Linked DNA regions of Homo sapiens. The protein of the gene in region 3 purifies or fractionates together with the protein of the main gene of each other region. This does not show direct contact. Each region holds a gene or a part of one and is shown on either strand. Other genes may lie near its edges.

The links.
Region 1: the proteins of COPS7B (region 3) and BTBD2 purify together in Homo sapiens (affinity purification with mass spectrometry; one large-scale study listed by BioGRID and IntAct). This does not show direct contact.
Region 2: the proteins of COPS7B (region 3) and RAB18 purify together in Homo sapiens (affinity purification with western blotting, with the first as the bait; one study listed by BioGRID). This does not show direct contact.
Region 4: the proteins of COPS7B (region 3) and KNSTRN purify together in Homo sapiens (affinity purification with mass spectrometry; 2 studies listed by BioGRID and IntAct, with this or other methods). This does not show direct contact.

What each region holds. Positions count from the first base shown.
Region 1 is NC_000019.10:1,991,715-1,995,214, forward strand, and holds part of BTBD2 (BTB/POZ domain-containing protein 2), read right to left. Parts: intron 1,463-3,500; coding exon 1,306-1,462; intron 343-1,305; coding exon of another isoform or gene 163-342; intron 1-162.
Region 2 is NC_000010.11:27,538,804-27,542,303, forward strand, and holds the end of RAB18 (ras-related protein Rab-18), read left to right. Parts: 3' UTR 1-3,436; downstream 3,437-3,500. UniProt on the Homo sapiens protein: The small GTPases Rab are key regulators of intracellular membrane trafficking, from the formation of transport vesicles to their fusion with membranes.
Region 3 is NC_000002.12:231,785,102-231,789,244, reverse strand, and holds the start of COPS7B (COP9 signalosome complex subunit 7b), read right to left. Parts: upstream 2,801-4,143; 5' UTR 2,707-2,800; intron 691-2,706; 5' UTR 675-690; coding exon 513-674; intron 507-512; exon of another isoform or gene 1-506. UniProt on the Homo sapiens protein: Component of the COP9 signalosome complex (CSN), a complex involved in various cellular and developmental processes.
Region 4 is NC_000015.10:40,389,221-40,392,720, forward strand, and holds part of KNSTRN (small kinetochore-associated protein), read left to right. Parts: intron 1-285; coding exon 286-391; intron 392-615; coding exon 616-709; intron 710-2,272; coding exon 2,273-2,334; intron 2,335-2,728; coding exon 2,729-2,803; intron 2,804-3,500. UniProt on the Homo sapiens protein: Essential component of the mitotic spindle required for faithful chromosome segregation and progression into anaphase.

The DNA of each region.
Region 1 (3,500 bases), on a different chromosome or scaffold from region 3:
CACCCCCGACCAGGAGCTCACGGCTCCCAAGCGGCCGTCCACCCGTACTGGCCCCACGTCCTCTCAGCCTCCCTGGCCTGCACGACCTCCCCAGCCCCCGCCCTTTGGGCTGCACAGAGCCCAACTGGGGTCCCCTGAGATCCCTGGCCCTGCTCTGTCTACCTGACATTTCCTTAGAGAGAGAGAGAAAGTTCTCTCTGGTTTTTTTTTTTCTTTTTTTTTAGCCAGGCGCGGTGGTGGGGGCCTGTAATCCCAGCTACTGTGGAGGCTGAGGCAGGAGAATCGCTTGAACGCTGGAGGCGGAGGTTGCAGTGAGCTGAGATCGTGCCATTGCACTCCAGCCTGGGCAACAAGAGAAACCCCGTCTCAAAAAAAAATTATTTTACTTTTTTTTTAGAGACAGGGTCTCACTCTGTCACTCAGGCTGGAGTGCAGTGGCGCCATCTCCACTCACTGCAGCCTCAACCTCCCGGGCTCAGGCAATCTTCCTGCTTTGGTCCCCCAAGTAGTTGAGATTCCAGACATGCACCAGCGTGCTTGGCTAATTTATGAAATATTTTTTTTTAGTAGAGATGAGGTTTCACCATGTTGGCCAGGCTGGTCTCAAACTCCTGACCTCTGGTGATCTGCCTGTCTCAGCCTCCCAAAATGCTGGGATTACAGGCATGAACCACAGTGCCCGGCCTGAATCTTTTTTTAATTTTTTGTAGAAACGGGGTCTCTCTATGTTGCCTAGGCTGGTCTAGAACTCCGGGCCTCAAGCAATCCTCCCTACTTGGCCTCCCAAAGTGCTGGGGTTACAGGCGTGAGCCACCGCACCCTGCCAATAATTTTTTGAAGTATCACGGAAAAGTCCAAAACACATCTTTTTTTTTCAGGTGGAGTCTCGCTCTGTCATGCACGCTGGAGTGCAGTGGTGCGATCTCGGCTCACTGCAACCTCCACCTCCCAGGTTCATGCAATTCTCCTGCCTCAGCCTCCCAAGTAGCTGGAATTACAGGTGCCCGCCACCACGCCCGGCTCTTTTTTGTGTTTTTAGTAGAGATAGGATTTCGCCATGTTGGCCAGGCTGGTCTGGAACGCCTGAGCTCAGGTGATCTGCCCGCCTCGGCCTCCCAAAGTGCCGGGATTACAGGCGTGAGCAACCACGCCCGGCCCAAAACACATTTTACTACCAGGCAGGAGCCTGCTGCCTCCCGGGCCCGCCCCCGGCCCCGCCTCCGCCTCCAGCCTCGGTCCGCCCCACCCCGGCCCCGCCTCCAGCCAGGCCTGGCCCCGCCCCCGCCTCGTACCGGCCCCGCCCACCTGCGTGAGCAGCATGAAGGCGTTGTCGGCTCGCAGGTTCTTCTTCAGGAACTCCACGCAATGGGCCTCGAGCGCTGGCACCGCGTACTTCTTGGCGGTGTATAGCGTGGTCATCACCGTCTCCGGGCCAATCTGCACCTCGTCCGAGTAGAGAAACCTGCAGAAGCAACGCGGGTGGCCGTGAGGTGGGACCGCCATGCCCGCCCCCAGGGGAGAGCGTCAGGGGACCACTCAGACCGTTAGACTCGGCCACCGGCCCTTGAGCTGGCAGGACCCAAACACCCACATCAGGTTCCCCGAGGAACCTTCCAGAATTAGCCCCTGTCCGTTGCCCTCTGACATAGGGACACGACTTGGCAAGGTGGTCACCCATGAAAACGAGCAAGAGGCTGAACCCATCTACACAGCACACACCCGGAAGCGTCTATATGGCCTGTCTTGTTCTGCCCGGGATGCCCCAGGAGAGGGCACTGGGAGCTGGGTGTCTCCTTCTTGGGCACCTTTTCCATGAGGAACTGTTGGTTCCCCACCTCGGGCACCACCGAAAACCTCAACCACTTCTGGGTGGATCATAGAACCCAACACGCTAATTAGGATCATGGATAATCATGGACGCTATTACCACCTGCCAGCGAGGGGCCCACACGACACTGAATACAGATCAGAAGTTGGGCCGATCAAAAATAGAAGCACAGGCTGGGCCTGGTGGTTCACGCCTGTAACCCCAGCACTTTGGGAGGCTGAGGCGGGCAGATCGCCTGAGGTCAAGAAGTGCCAGACCAGCCTGGCCAACATGGTGAAACCCCGTCTCTACTAAAAATACAAAAATTAGCTGGGCGTGGTGGTGGGCGCCTGTAGTCCCAGCTACTTGGGAGGCTGAGGCAAGAGAATCGCTTGAACCTGGGAGGCAGATGTTGCAGTGAGCTGAGATCTCGCCACTGCACTCCAGCCTGGAGACAGAGCGAGAATCCGTCTCAAAAAAAAAAAAAAAAAAAAAAAAAAAAAAAAGCAGCACAGGCCGGCCTGGTGGTTCACGCCTGTAATCCCAGCACTTTGAGAGGCCGAGGCGGGCAGATCACTTGAGGCCAGGAGTTAGAGACTAGCCTGGCCGACATGGCAAAATCCCCCTCTACTAAAAATACAAAAATTAGCCAGGTGTGGTGGCAGACACCTGTAATCCCAGCTACCTGGGAGGCTGAGGCACAAGAATCGCTTGAACCCAGGAGGCGGAGGTTGCAGTGAGCCAAGATCGTATCACTGCACTGCAGCCTGGGAGACAGAGTGAGACTCCCTCTCAAAAAAAAAATAAAAAATAAAAAAATGTCTCCAGCCTGGAGCAGTGGCTCACATCTGTAATCCCAGCACGTTGGGAGGCAGAGGCGAGAGGATTGCCTGAGACCAGGAGTTGGAAACCAGTGTGGGCATGGTGAGATCCTGTCTCTAAACACATTTTTTTTTCAGCTGGGCACAGTGGCTCAGGCCTGTAATCCCAGCACTTTGGGAGGCTGAGGCAGGCGGATCATGAGATCAGGAGATCGAGACCATCCTGGCCAACATGATGAAACCGGGTCTCTACTAAAAATACAAAAATTAGCCAGGCGTGGTGGCGTGTGCCTGTAGTCCCAGGTACTCAGGAGGCTGATGCAGGAGAATCACTTGAACCCGGGAGGCAGAGGTTGCAGTGAGCCAGGATCGTGCCACTGCACTCCAGCCATGGTGGCAGAGCGCTACTCCATCTCAAAAAATGAAAAAATAAAAAAATATTTTTTTTCTCTCCCAGCCTGTGGGTGGCATTTCCACTCTGCCGGTATTGTCCTTTGAGGTATACATTTTTAACATTTTCCCTAAGTCCAATGTCTTTGTTTATTCTTTTCTTGGCTGTGTCTTTGGTGTCATATCCAAGTAATCATGGTCAAACCCAATGTCATGAAGATTTGATTCTGGTTTTTCTTTTTTTGTTGTTGTTGAGACAGAGTCTCGCTCTGTCGCCCAAGCTGGAGTGCAGTGGCGCAGTCTTGGTTTACTAAAACCTCTGCCTCCCAGGTTCAAGCGATTCTCCTGCCTCAGCTTCCTGAGTAGCTGGGGTTACAGGTGCCTGCTACCATGCCCAGCTAATTTTTGTATGTTTGTAGAGATGGGGTTTTGCCTTGTTGCCCAGGCTGGTCTCCAACTCCTGACCTCAGGTGATCCACCCA
Region 2 (3,500 bases), on a different chromosome or scaffold from region 3:
GGAGGACATGAATAGTGTGTTTATTGTAACTCCTCATACACTTTTAAAACCAACATCTTTTTTCATAAATGTTGGTAGTGTTTGTCCAGGTACCTTAACTGTAGCTTGTGTAATGTTGATGAATATCTGTATCTTACGGCTTCCATAATGGCTAGTTGATATTCAAAAACCTATTTCTGTGTTTTGAGGGGTGGGGAAAAAAAACACTAAGTGATAATTTGAAAAAGGCATATTGCTTCCAGATTCTGATGTGTGAGGGAAAATACTGTCACAATGAAAATCTTGACAATTTACTTAACAAGTAACCAGTAGTTCATCAAAACCAACTTGTACAGACTAATAAATCTTTTTCACAGTATTCAGTTTTCTCACCTCTTGCTATTGTATATTGTAGATTTTTTTCATTCATGTGTTATTTAATTTACACTGATCTCTGCTATTTTAACCCCCCAAATAAGTTATTTGTCCTTTAAGGTTGGTTACTATAATACCCCTCAGTAAGATTCCAGTATTAATTTCTGGGCAGTTTGTTCTCTGTATACAATTGCAAATGATAAGCATTTTTGTGAGTGACCACCTTTGCAATATGTTTGTTAATTTACTTCATGTTGGGTTCTTTCTGAAATGTACATCTTTACATATAAAAACCTCACATTCTACTTGATTTACACTTCCTAGTCTACATTACATGTGGTTGAAGGTTTTATACATTCTATATGCTTTTACTAAATATACAAGATTTACTACTAGAAATTTGGAGAAAGAACACTAACACATGTACTTGTGATTTGTTCATGTTATATTAAAACTTGAGATTTGTGTATTTATGTAGAGTCTGTATTGACAAGACTGTTGTTTTTTGCTCCTTGAGCTATATAATAATCTGTGTATTGGATTGTTGTCTTGATTTGGTCTAAATTTGAATATATATGAGTTACTTGAATATAACAAAAATGAATTTTGTTTGATAGATTTATATTGTAACCTTTTTCTAGTTCTTGAATAAATATAGCCTGCTTTCCCTAGATGCATTTGTGTAGGAAGTATATACATTTCCCTATTACTCTCATCAGCTGAAGAATATGTACTATTGTGTTACTCAAATTATGTGGCTTTCATTTTGTTGTTTTGTTGCAAGCTTAGTGTTTTGTAGTGGAGGTTTTGTAAATGAAACAGTTGTAATATCTAAGGTCAGGCACCTAGTAACAGGGTTTTGTTAATTCTTTTCAGAATCATTGAAGCAGTCTTAAAGGGTCTTTTGCAGATGGTACAAATTAGAACAATTAGAATATAGTATTTTGAGTTCTAGTAGTACTGAGATTGACCCAAACAAATAAAAAACTATTCAATTTCTGAGTAATAGTTAATATTTATTGAAAGCTTCCTTGGTGCCAGATGCCTTTCTAAGTGCTGAATTATCTCATTAAACCTCACAGCAACCTTAAGAGATTAGTACTCCTATTATGCCCATTTTAAAGGTGAGGACAACACAATGTAGGTATGTTAGGTAACCCCCAAAGATCACATAGCTACTCAGTCACTGAGCTGGATTCCAGTCATGGCATTTTTACTTCTGAGCCCATACTCTTCACCATCGCTCATTTTACAATGGGTAGTTAGTTACCAGCTTTTTGTAACACAACCAAGTTAAGGCAGTTCCACTATTTCTTTATCACTCTTTTGTTATATGTAATAGAAGTATTTCACACTTTTGGGTTATAGAGTAAATCCCATGATGTAAACCTACCTCATAAGTCATGTGACATAAAAGTTAAGGTAGTGGAGTAGGTGGTCTTATTTCTTTCACCTGCTCAGAGTGGACTGAAAATCCTGACTTAGAAAAGGTACAAAGTTAGGGGACTTATGGTACCTTCACTTTTTATGTGAGAATAGAAATTATGGAAACAGTAATTTGCTCAAAACTGAAATCTGGGGTGATGTTTTCATTTCATGTATTTGATTGCCATCCATAAACTCATACTTGGTGTTGACATTCTAGCTGAGTGTTGTGGAAATAGACTTGATTTTGATTCATCGTAGCTTGCATGGTCAAGAGACATGATTCTCTACTAAGGGTGGGGCTAGCACCATAGCTCATAAAAGAATCCTTCTTACACCAGTACTTGTTCTGCCTGTGAGTTGGCACAGACTTACCTAATAACCATAGTGTCTTTAAGTACAACTTAATACATATTTTTTCTGTGTATTTTTTTCAAATGAACTCAACAATTCTTCAGGTATTATAGATCAGAGATCCTCTCCATATTCAAGCATTATGCTTCTCTTTCTTGGGGGTACATTTCACTAGTAATACTTAGGAAGTTATTTTGTCTTTCCTGTATTTCCCTAGTTAAGTATAGGGGTAAAAACGTTATTCAGCTTTCAGAAGACATTGTTCTGACTCCGACCCTGCCGTGTATACTCAACTATATAGACTTCACCCTGGGTTTTGCCTAAACTGTTGAAAGACGAGAATAAATAGACATAGACAGGCTAGCTAAGTCAAGACTAGGGGCTAAGGAATATAGAATCACCCAGGTCTTTTTTTTTTTTTTTAATTTTTCTCTCCTCAGTTGGGAACATCTATCATGCTGGAGGACTACTGTGATGGGGCTTTACATTTTACTGTTTTGTTGCTAGCTTATTGTTTCATACTTGGGAATCAGTCATGTTTCTGATTGTGGTATAAAGTTTGCTTAAGTGCCCCTTAGTTAAAGCTGTTCAATGAATGTAAGCACACACACACCTACACACATATTTTGAATAGTCGTGTGTTCATGCCTGTTCTCAGTCTTGTCCCCTTTACCGTTTCTCATGCAGGTTATTTCTTGCTTTTTTTTTTTTTCCTCTTTTTTAACCGGAGAAGCAACAAATTACGTAGTTTTTTTTGTGTTTCTTTGATTACTAGTGAGCTTGAGTACTTTTAATATTTTATTGGATATGTTTGTGACTGACTTTAATTTCTTGTTTGTGTGTGCTGTGGCTGCCCGATCCAGCACCTACTTCCTTCTCCCACCATACCACCCCCACCCCCACCCCTGCAAACAATTGGCATGTGGTTTGGGTGGCATTGTCACACCCTCGGCTTTCTAGATTAACCCAGTTACCTTTTAGCAGTGCCCCACTTCCCCAGTAGCAATGGTTCAGGGGTAGGCACCTGACCCAGACCAGACTACTGAGATAAAGATGTTTGCCTAGGCTTTTTCAGGAGCAATTGAAGACATCTTGTTGGAGATAGTGTGCTGGGAGGAGTCACATTCTGAACTTGCTGCAGCTCGTTTTTCTAATATAAAGGAACCAGCCTGAGGCAGTACCAGGGTGAGAGGGAGTCTATTGGAGCCCTTGGGAACTTCTGGATCAAATTGGACCTGAATTGAGATCTATTTCTCAGCTTTCACTTATGTGAGCCAATAAATTCCTTTTTTGTTGAAGGCAATTTGACTTGGATTTTCTTTTTTCTTGCAACCAAATATAAGTAGTGTGAGAATGTGTGTGTTTTT
Region 3 (4,143 bases):
GTAAAATGAACTATGTCCTAGCTTTTCATGTCATATCTAACACATCTAACACATTTAGCACAACACTGCCCTTTTCCTCAAGAACAATACACTCCTATTCATGTCCATCTTATGTTCAATAGCAGTATGTTTCTGCTGTGTGTCCCTGACCAATCTTCCTTATCGATATTGCACTGGAGGTTTCTGGTCCTTAAGAATGCATGAATCTACTCCTATTAAACAGCCCATGCTTACAGCACTACTTTTCTAATTTATCAGGATCAATTTGACTTTTTTACTATCTTTTAGGTTATTATTAGCAACAATCTAATTTTACCCAAGGTAAGATAAAAATACTGGATAAAAGGAGCCAAGGATATTCTCTCAATCTCTCCCTCTGCCCCACCAATTCCCATCTGTCTCACAATAGGGTACCTCACAGGTTCACAATACTTCAGCACTGAAATTCTTTGGAAACCTGGAGAATTACAGAGTCTTAGAATAAAGAGAAATTGTTTGCAAACCGTTCTTACCTCCTGCACGTTGGCCAGCTCCAGAAGTTCTCCAAAGACATACACTCCGGGAGCCTCTAAGACCTGGCTTATGAGAGCAGTGAGGGCTGAGCCACTGGTACCTTTGGCTAGTAAAATAAACTGCTCCAGGAGATTACTTGAGGGTTTCTGTTCCCCTGCCATTCTCTGGCCTTGAAATCTGTCCAAAAGAAAATTGTGTCAGTCATTCTTCCTTCTCCTTTGCAAAGTCTGTGCCTATTCAGTGCTGAATCAAACACCAGAATACTTTACTTTTATAGTGTTGATAAAGAAAAAACAGGACAAGTGCAGTGGCTCATGCCTGTAATCCCAGCACTTTGGGAGGCTGAGGCGGGTGGATCACCTGAGGTGAGGAGTTCGAGACCAGTATGGGCAACATGGCAAAACCCCATCTCTACTAAAAATACAAAAATTAGCTAGGCTGGTGGCAGATACCTGTAGTCCCAGTTACTTGGGAGGCTGTGGCACAAGAATTGCTTGAACCCAGGAGGTGGAGGTTGCAGTGAGCCAAGATTGTGCCACTGCACTCCAGCCTGGGCAACAGAGCGAGACTGTCTCAAAAAAAAAAAAAAAAAAAACAGTTCCTGAGTCCAGATGCAATGACCACCTTATGAGATGGGTGGAGTTCAACCTGGAGTTAAAAGGATCTTGTCCTAAATTCTGGTGTTTGAAACACACTTTGTAAAAGTCATTTCACTTCCACCTGTCCCTCCTCCAGAGGCAACACCTTCTAAGTCCTTAAACCTGACCAGGACCTAAAGAAAAACACATGAGTTTCTCAGCAGCTGTTTTATATCCACCTCGTTTATACATTCTGGTTAAGAAATGGAGGATACTGCCTATACACAGAGGCACCGGATGTAAGCAAAAGCAATCAGTTACAGCTCCCACTGTGTCATCAGAATCCAATCTACAGCCAGACAGATAAGGAAAACAAAAAACCAGACAAGAAAGATGTCTCATTTAATCAAGTCAAGTAAGCACAGATAAAGGGAGACATCATTTTGAAAGAAAAGTAGCGATATATTCAAACTAAGAACATACATGCTGTGTAAGACCATGGGGAAAAATCCCTGTATTCGGCCTCCTCCTGATACGACATTTTAACCAAACGTGACTTCAGAATGTGTAAAAAAAAAAAAACCTCAAGAAAACGATAAAAAGATTTGGGAAAACAGTGAAAATATTGTATCAGCGCTCCGAAGACATTAAGTACAGGAGGGTCCCTCAATTGTGTAATCTAATTACACGCTGAGTGTACAGGAGTTCCAGGTAAGATTTCTCCTCCAAGAATGATACATATTAGAGCAGCGTGACAAAATGAACGAAAAACGGTATAGTAGAGTGCAGCAAAGAACAATTTGAAGAATAGTTTGGTGCAAGAGGAACTAAGTTTTGTGTTGGCAGGCACACAGATTAGTTGCCCTTTCACAGTATTAGAGAAACAAGTATGTCGCCTCACTTAGGGTTACCTAAGAAGGTCCGGCCAGACACAGGAAAAACAATGAAGTGCTGGGGAACAACGAGTTTGAGGACGGAAGGGAAAGGGAAAAGAGAAGGGGAGAGGATACGAGGAAGAAGGAAAGGAGTAGGGAAGAAAGGAGGGTCGGTGACGGTAAAGAGGGAAGGAGCGAAAAGGCCCTTCCAAGAGGACCCGTGTGAAGAGACAGATGGGGATCTCTGCAAAGAGTCCCAATGTTAGGAGGTGGGGGTGGAGAGGGGGTAGGGAAATGGAGAGAAACTTCTGTCCCTTCAAAAAATCTCGGCTTAAGGAGCAAAGCCTGTGGGCGCAGAGAATGTAAAGAGACGGAGACAGTCGCTTTCTTCTGGAGTGGGAGGGCCAGAGGCTAGGCACAGAGCGGAGATAAATTCCCGTCAGGGGAGGGCGCTATTTGGATGGACTGGAGAGGGGCAAACGAGCAGCCTTTGGGGATGGGAGAGCGAAAGCAGCCACAGCACTGAAGCTGAGGGTCGCAAGCTGCAGCAGACCTCACGGTGGGCGGTATGCTCCAAGCAGGGCCGCAGGCGTGGAGTGAGGAGCCGCGGGACGCGCTCCCCAAGGCGGGGGCGGGGCGGGCACGGCCGCGGGCTTCCTTGGCGGCGGGCTCTAAGCCGGATCGTCTGGCCGAGCCTGGAGCGCCGGCCCCGCTCGGCCCACCCTCTCGCTAGCTCCTACCTGTCCACGCCACCTCTCGGTCCTCTTAGTCGCTGGCTCGGCCTCCCGGCGCCTGCCCGCAGGTTGTCAAGCGTCCATGATCACCCCGGCGTCCGGCGCTTTTCTGTCTCCGCCGACCCGTCGCCCGTGCAGCTCCCCCGGAAGCCTCCCACCGCTGCACTCGCGTTCCGCCCACACAAGGTTCCACCCGCCGCGTTTACAGCCTTCGACCTCCGGTGGGGAAGTGGGAGCGAGGGGGCGGGGAAGAGTCTGCAGCCCGGGAACCAGGCGGGGAGGGGGTGGCTAGGGGCCCAAGGAGAGGAATGCGGCCTAGACGGTACTGCAGCCCAACCGTCGCCATCGCCATCCCGGGCCCCAAATCCTCCCCTTAGGCTGTGCTTTCTCTCTCAGGAGCTCCCCATGGCTACTGCGCTACCCCTGGGCACCGAGATACATTAAGCCTACTAACTACCACTTATTGAGCGTTTTACCATGTGCCAGGTGCTGTACATGCATTATCTCGTTGAATTCTCATAACTGTGGCTTGTATTATTGTTCCCATTTTTCAGGTGAGTTAACTAAGTCCAAAAGTCAGAAAGTGACAAAGCTTGCTATCTTTGTCAAACCCAGGCTATCTGAGGCCGAAGACGATGTTCTTGACCTCTATTCAGAAAATGTTTTAAAATAAGCAAGAGATGGGTTAAGCCAACAATGGTTCTATGACCAAAATGTCATTGATAGAGTTGCATCTGGTGCTTACCAACTCCCCTGGGAAGATGGCTAAGAAATGCCACATAATTGAACACTTAAACTGATTCCTGTATACACCACAGTCTTTCAGGTCTTGAAAATGAGAGAGAAAAACAGCCCTATTTGCCTATCGTGCGTTAGAATGCAGAAATGAGACAGGACAAATGCAAAGGAGCCTAGCATCAACCAACTCATTCATTTATTCAAAAACATTTCTTTAGCACCTATTATGTCCTGAAAAGTTATATGAAGATAAAACAAAGCTCTTACCCTCAAAAGCTCCAATGTGTTAAATGCTATGGGGAAGATATGACAACACTTTGGAAGCACAGAAGAGGTTGGGGAAGAAAAAAACAGACAAAAAGGGGAAAAAAGGGGGGTAGTGCCCATTGTCACAGAGGCTCGCACTGTGCAGCATATACTGATGTCAAAAAGAAACCCAGAGTGGTTTGACCCCAGGGTTTTCAAGAGTGAGAAATGAGGGGTACAGAGCTGGAGTCAGGTCATCAAAGGTCTTGGAATCCACATGCCAGGTACTGGGGAATTACTTAGGCTTTTTAAGCTAAGGAGAGGTATGAATAATTGCCTTGTTAGAGTGATCATGCTAGGTGCTATAGGAGTGGATTGGATGTGGAGAGAATTGGAGGCAGGGAAAACCTCCGGTGAGGTGACCGATTTATTCTAGATAAGAGATTGTGTTGCCGGGCG
Region 4 (3,500 bases), on a different chromosome or scaffold from region 3:
TCACCACAACCTCCGCCTCCTGGGTTCAAGCGATTATCCTGCCTCAGCCTCCCAAATACCTGGGATTACAGGCATGCGCCACCACGCCTGACTAATCTTTTGTAATTTTAGTAGAGACAGGGTTTCTCTTATCTTGGTCAGGCTGGTCTTGATTTCCCGACCTCAGGTGATCTGCCTGCCTCAGCCTCCCAAAGTGCTGGGATTACAGGCATGAGCTACCGCACCTGGTGTGGGCCATACTGTTAACCCTTTTATCTTTTCATGTAAGTACAACTATTATTACAGCTACAAACCACTGAGTAAGCAAAAATCAGAGGAAGAGCTCAAGGACAAGAACCAGCTGTTAGAAGCCGTCAACAAGCAGTTGCACCAGAAGTTGACTGAAACTCAGGTAAGAGACCCACCAGAGCTCTGTTACCAGCTGCCACTGGGCGATCCACATGGAATCCTGATGGGTGGCCCCTTGGATGAGCAAGCTTGTTAATGCACAGATGCCCAAGGGCAGAAAAAAAAAGCCAGGCTTTTGCTATGGCTGTCCAAGAGCAAGGGCAAGAAAGGGCAACCACCCCTAGGGAGTTGGACAATTCCTGATCTGTCTGTGCTGTGCTCCAATAGGGAGAGCTGAAGGACCTGACCCAGAAGGTAGAGCTGCTGGAGAAGTTTCGGGACAACTGTTTGGCAATTTTGGAGAGCAAGGGCCTTGATCCAGGTAAGAGACAGCACACAGCTAGCCTCCTTTGAAGGAATTGGTGCATGTGCCCCTTCCGGGGTTGATCTTGGCAGCATGGCATCAGCTGGCCCAGTATGTGCAGGGGTTACTTTCATAAAGCCCTAAAGATTTTGGAAAGCTTCTGTTTGTTTTCATGTGATGTTGATTTTTGCCTGGCCAATAGGATTTCAGATGATTATAGAGAGAGGGTTATCTCTTTCTTACCTGAACACTTTATGCCATTCATTTAGTGCCAACAGGTATGACCTTGCAAATAGATGAGAAACACTTTGTTCCTTTCAAGGGAGAACATTTTCTGTCTCTTCCTATTTGGGAAAGTTACTAGTGTGCTTGAAAGGAACATTTTGTTTGAACATGCTCTTCCTTTCAAGCATACTAGTAATCCCAAATGGGAAGAGAAAGAAAATACTATTTCAAGCATTCTTAAACCTGGTTAATCATCAGAATTACAGTGACTAAAATATGACTACTATTCTGACCCTGTCCCCCAGAAAGCAGTATCTGTAGCAAAGAGAGCAGAAGAAGGAATTGCCCAAAGACTGTAAGAGGGCCTCAGACTGAGTCAAAGAGCCAGAGAATGCCCAGGAAAGGGGCCCAGGCCTTTTTGTATTAAGGAATACTGACTTTGAATGTTACTGGTTAATCTTTAGGTTACAGTTGAGGATATTCTTTTTTTTTTTTTGAGATGAAGTCTCATTCCATTGCCCAAGCTGAAGTGCAGAGGTGTGATTTCGGCTCACTGAAACCTCCTCCTCCTGGGTTCAAGTGATTCTCCTGCCTCAGCCTCCTGAGTAGCTGGGATTACAGGCGTGTACCACCACACCCAGCTAATTTTTGTATTTTTAGTAGAGATGGGGTTTTGCCATGTTGGTCAGGCTGGTCTCAAACTCCTGACCTCAAGTGATCTGCCTGTCTCGGCCTCCCAGAGTGCTGGGTTTACAGACATGAGTTACCATGCCCAGCCTAGGATATTCTTTATAGTCACCATAAATATATATGTTTTTAAATTTAAAATTGTTTATTTTTTTGAGATGGGATCTCGCTATGTTGCCCAGGCTGGCCTCCAACTCCTGGGCTCAAGCAATCCTCCCAAATAGCTGGGACTACAGGTGTGCACCACCACATCCGACACCATAAATATTTTGTATGATTTTAGTTTATTACATGCATGTGATATTACCGAAAGTAATAATTTTTTAAGGCCTGAAAGGCTCTTAAAAATAGCTTTGTGAATTGTGAACAAAACCAAAAAAAATCCAACCTATACATTTCCTTTGGACAAATTGTCCACTGACCTAAGGAGAAAGTATACCGAATTTTTGGCCATATCAAAACCTAGATTGAAAGGAGATAAAATACAGTTTTGCAGGGCAGATATGGGTGACCCTGCCAAGGTGAAAACTTAGGAGAAAGTCCAGGATGAGACACTTAAGAGAAATTCCCCTCATGAATATTTCTGTACTTGTCCACGGAGGGTTTTTATTTTCTTTTGTTTAGGGTGTGTAGTTCCCTAAGTGAGATTGACTTTGTTGTATCCATCAGCTTTAGGCAGTGAGACCCTGGCATCACGACAAGAATCCACTACTGATCACATGGACTCTATGGTGAGGGCATGGGTGTGAAAGGGCGCAAGGGCTGAGTGACTGTGGGGCTCTGTAAATCTAAGAAGGTCTCTGCTATATATTCCATAAACTCCAAGAAACAGCCTTTGATTATCTGTGATGCTAGAAAAGAGAAATGGGATGTGTACTCAAAATAGCATATTTTACTTGAAAGGTAGCTTTGTGCTTACAAATATAAGTGAGTCTGAATTGAAAATTTAAAACACATAATAGGTAAACCTGTAGAGAGAGCTTTCTCGTTCTTCTGTTCTATACTTTATCAAATTTCTCTCCTGACTCCTTTGTTGAGAACTGTGTGGAAAGGATGTTAGCCATCATCTAATGCAAGTCTGGTTTTATATGAAGATTTGTTTACTACATTGTGCTTTCCTCTTAGTTGCTGTTAGAAACTTTGCAAGAGGAGCTGAAGCTTTTTAACGAAACAGCCAAAAAGCAGATGGAGGAGTTACAGGTGAGAGGCAGACATCACCCTGACCATTTCCTACCATGATAGGTAGATTTATAGTGGGGTCTTTTCTGTTTTTCTATTTATTTTTAATAAACTTTCTAAATAATTTTAGATTTATAGGAAAGTTACAAAGATAATACAGAAAATTTACCCTGATAGTAACGTGTTTTTTTTTTTCCAACTTTTAAGTTCAGGGGTACACGTACAGGGTGTGTAGGCTTGTTACACAGGTAAACGTGTGCCATGGTGGTTAGCTGCACAGATCATCCCATCACCTAGGTATTGAGCCCAGCATCCATTAGCTATTCTTCTTGATGCACTTCCTCCTCCACCCCCAATAGTAACATCTTACATTATCCTGGTACATTTGTCAAAACTAAGAAATCAGCCAGGCATGGTGGCTCACGCCTATAATCCCAGCACTTTGGGAGGCTGAGGTGGAAGGATTACTTGAAGCCAGGAGTTTGAGACCAGCCTGGGAAACATAACAAGACCCCATCTCTACAAAATAAAATTTAGAAAATAGCCAGGCGTGGTGGTACATACCTGTAGTCCCAGCTGCTCAGGAGGCTGAGGCAAGAAGACCACTTGGGCCCAGGAGGGCAAGGAGATAAAGTCTCACTGTTGTCCCCCAGGCTGGAGTGCAATGGCGTGATCTCGGCTCACTGCAACCTCCGCCTCCCGGGTTCAAGCGATTTTC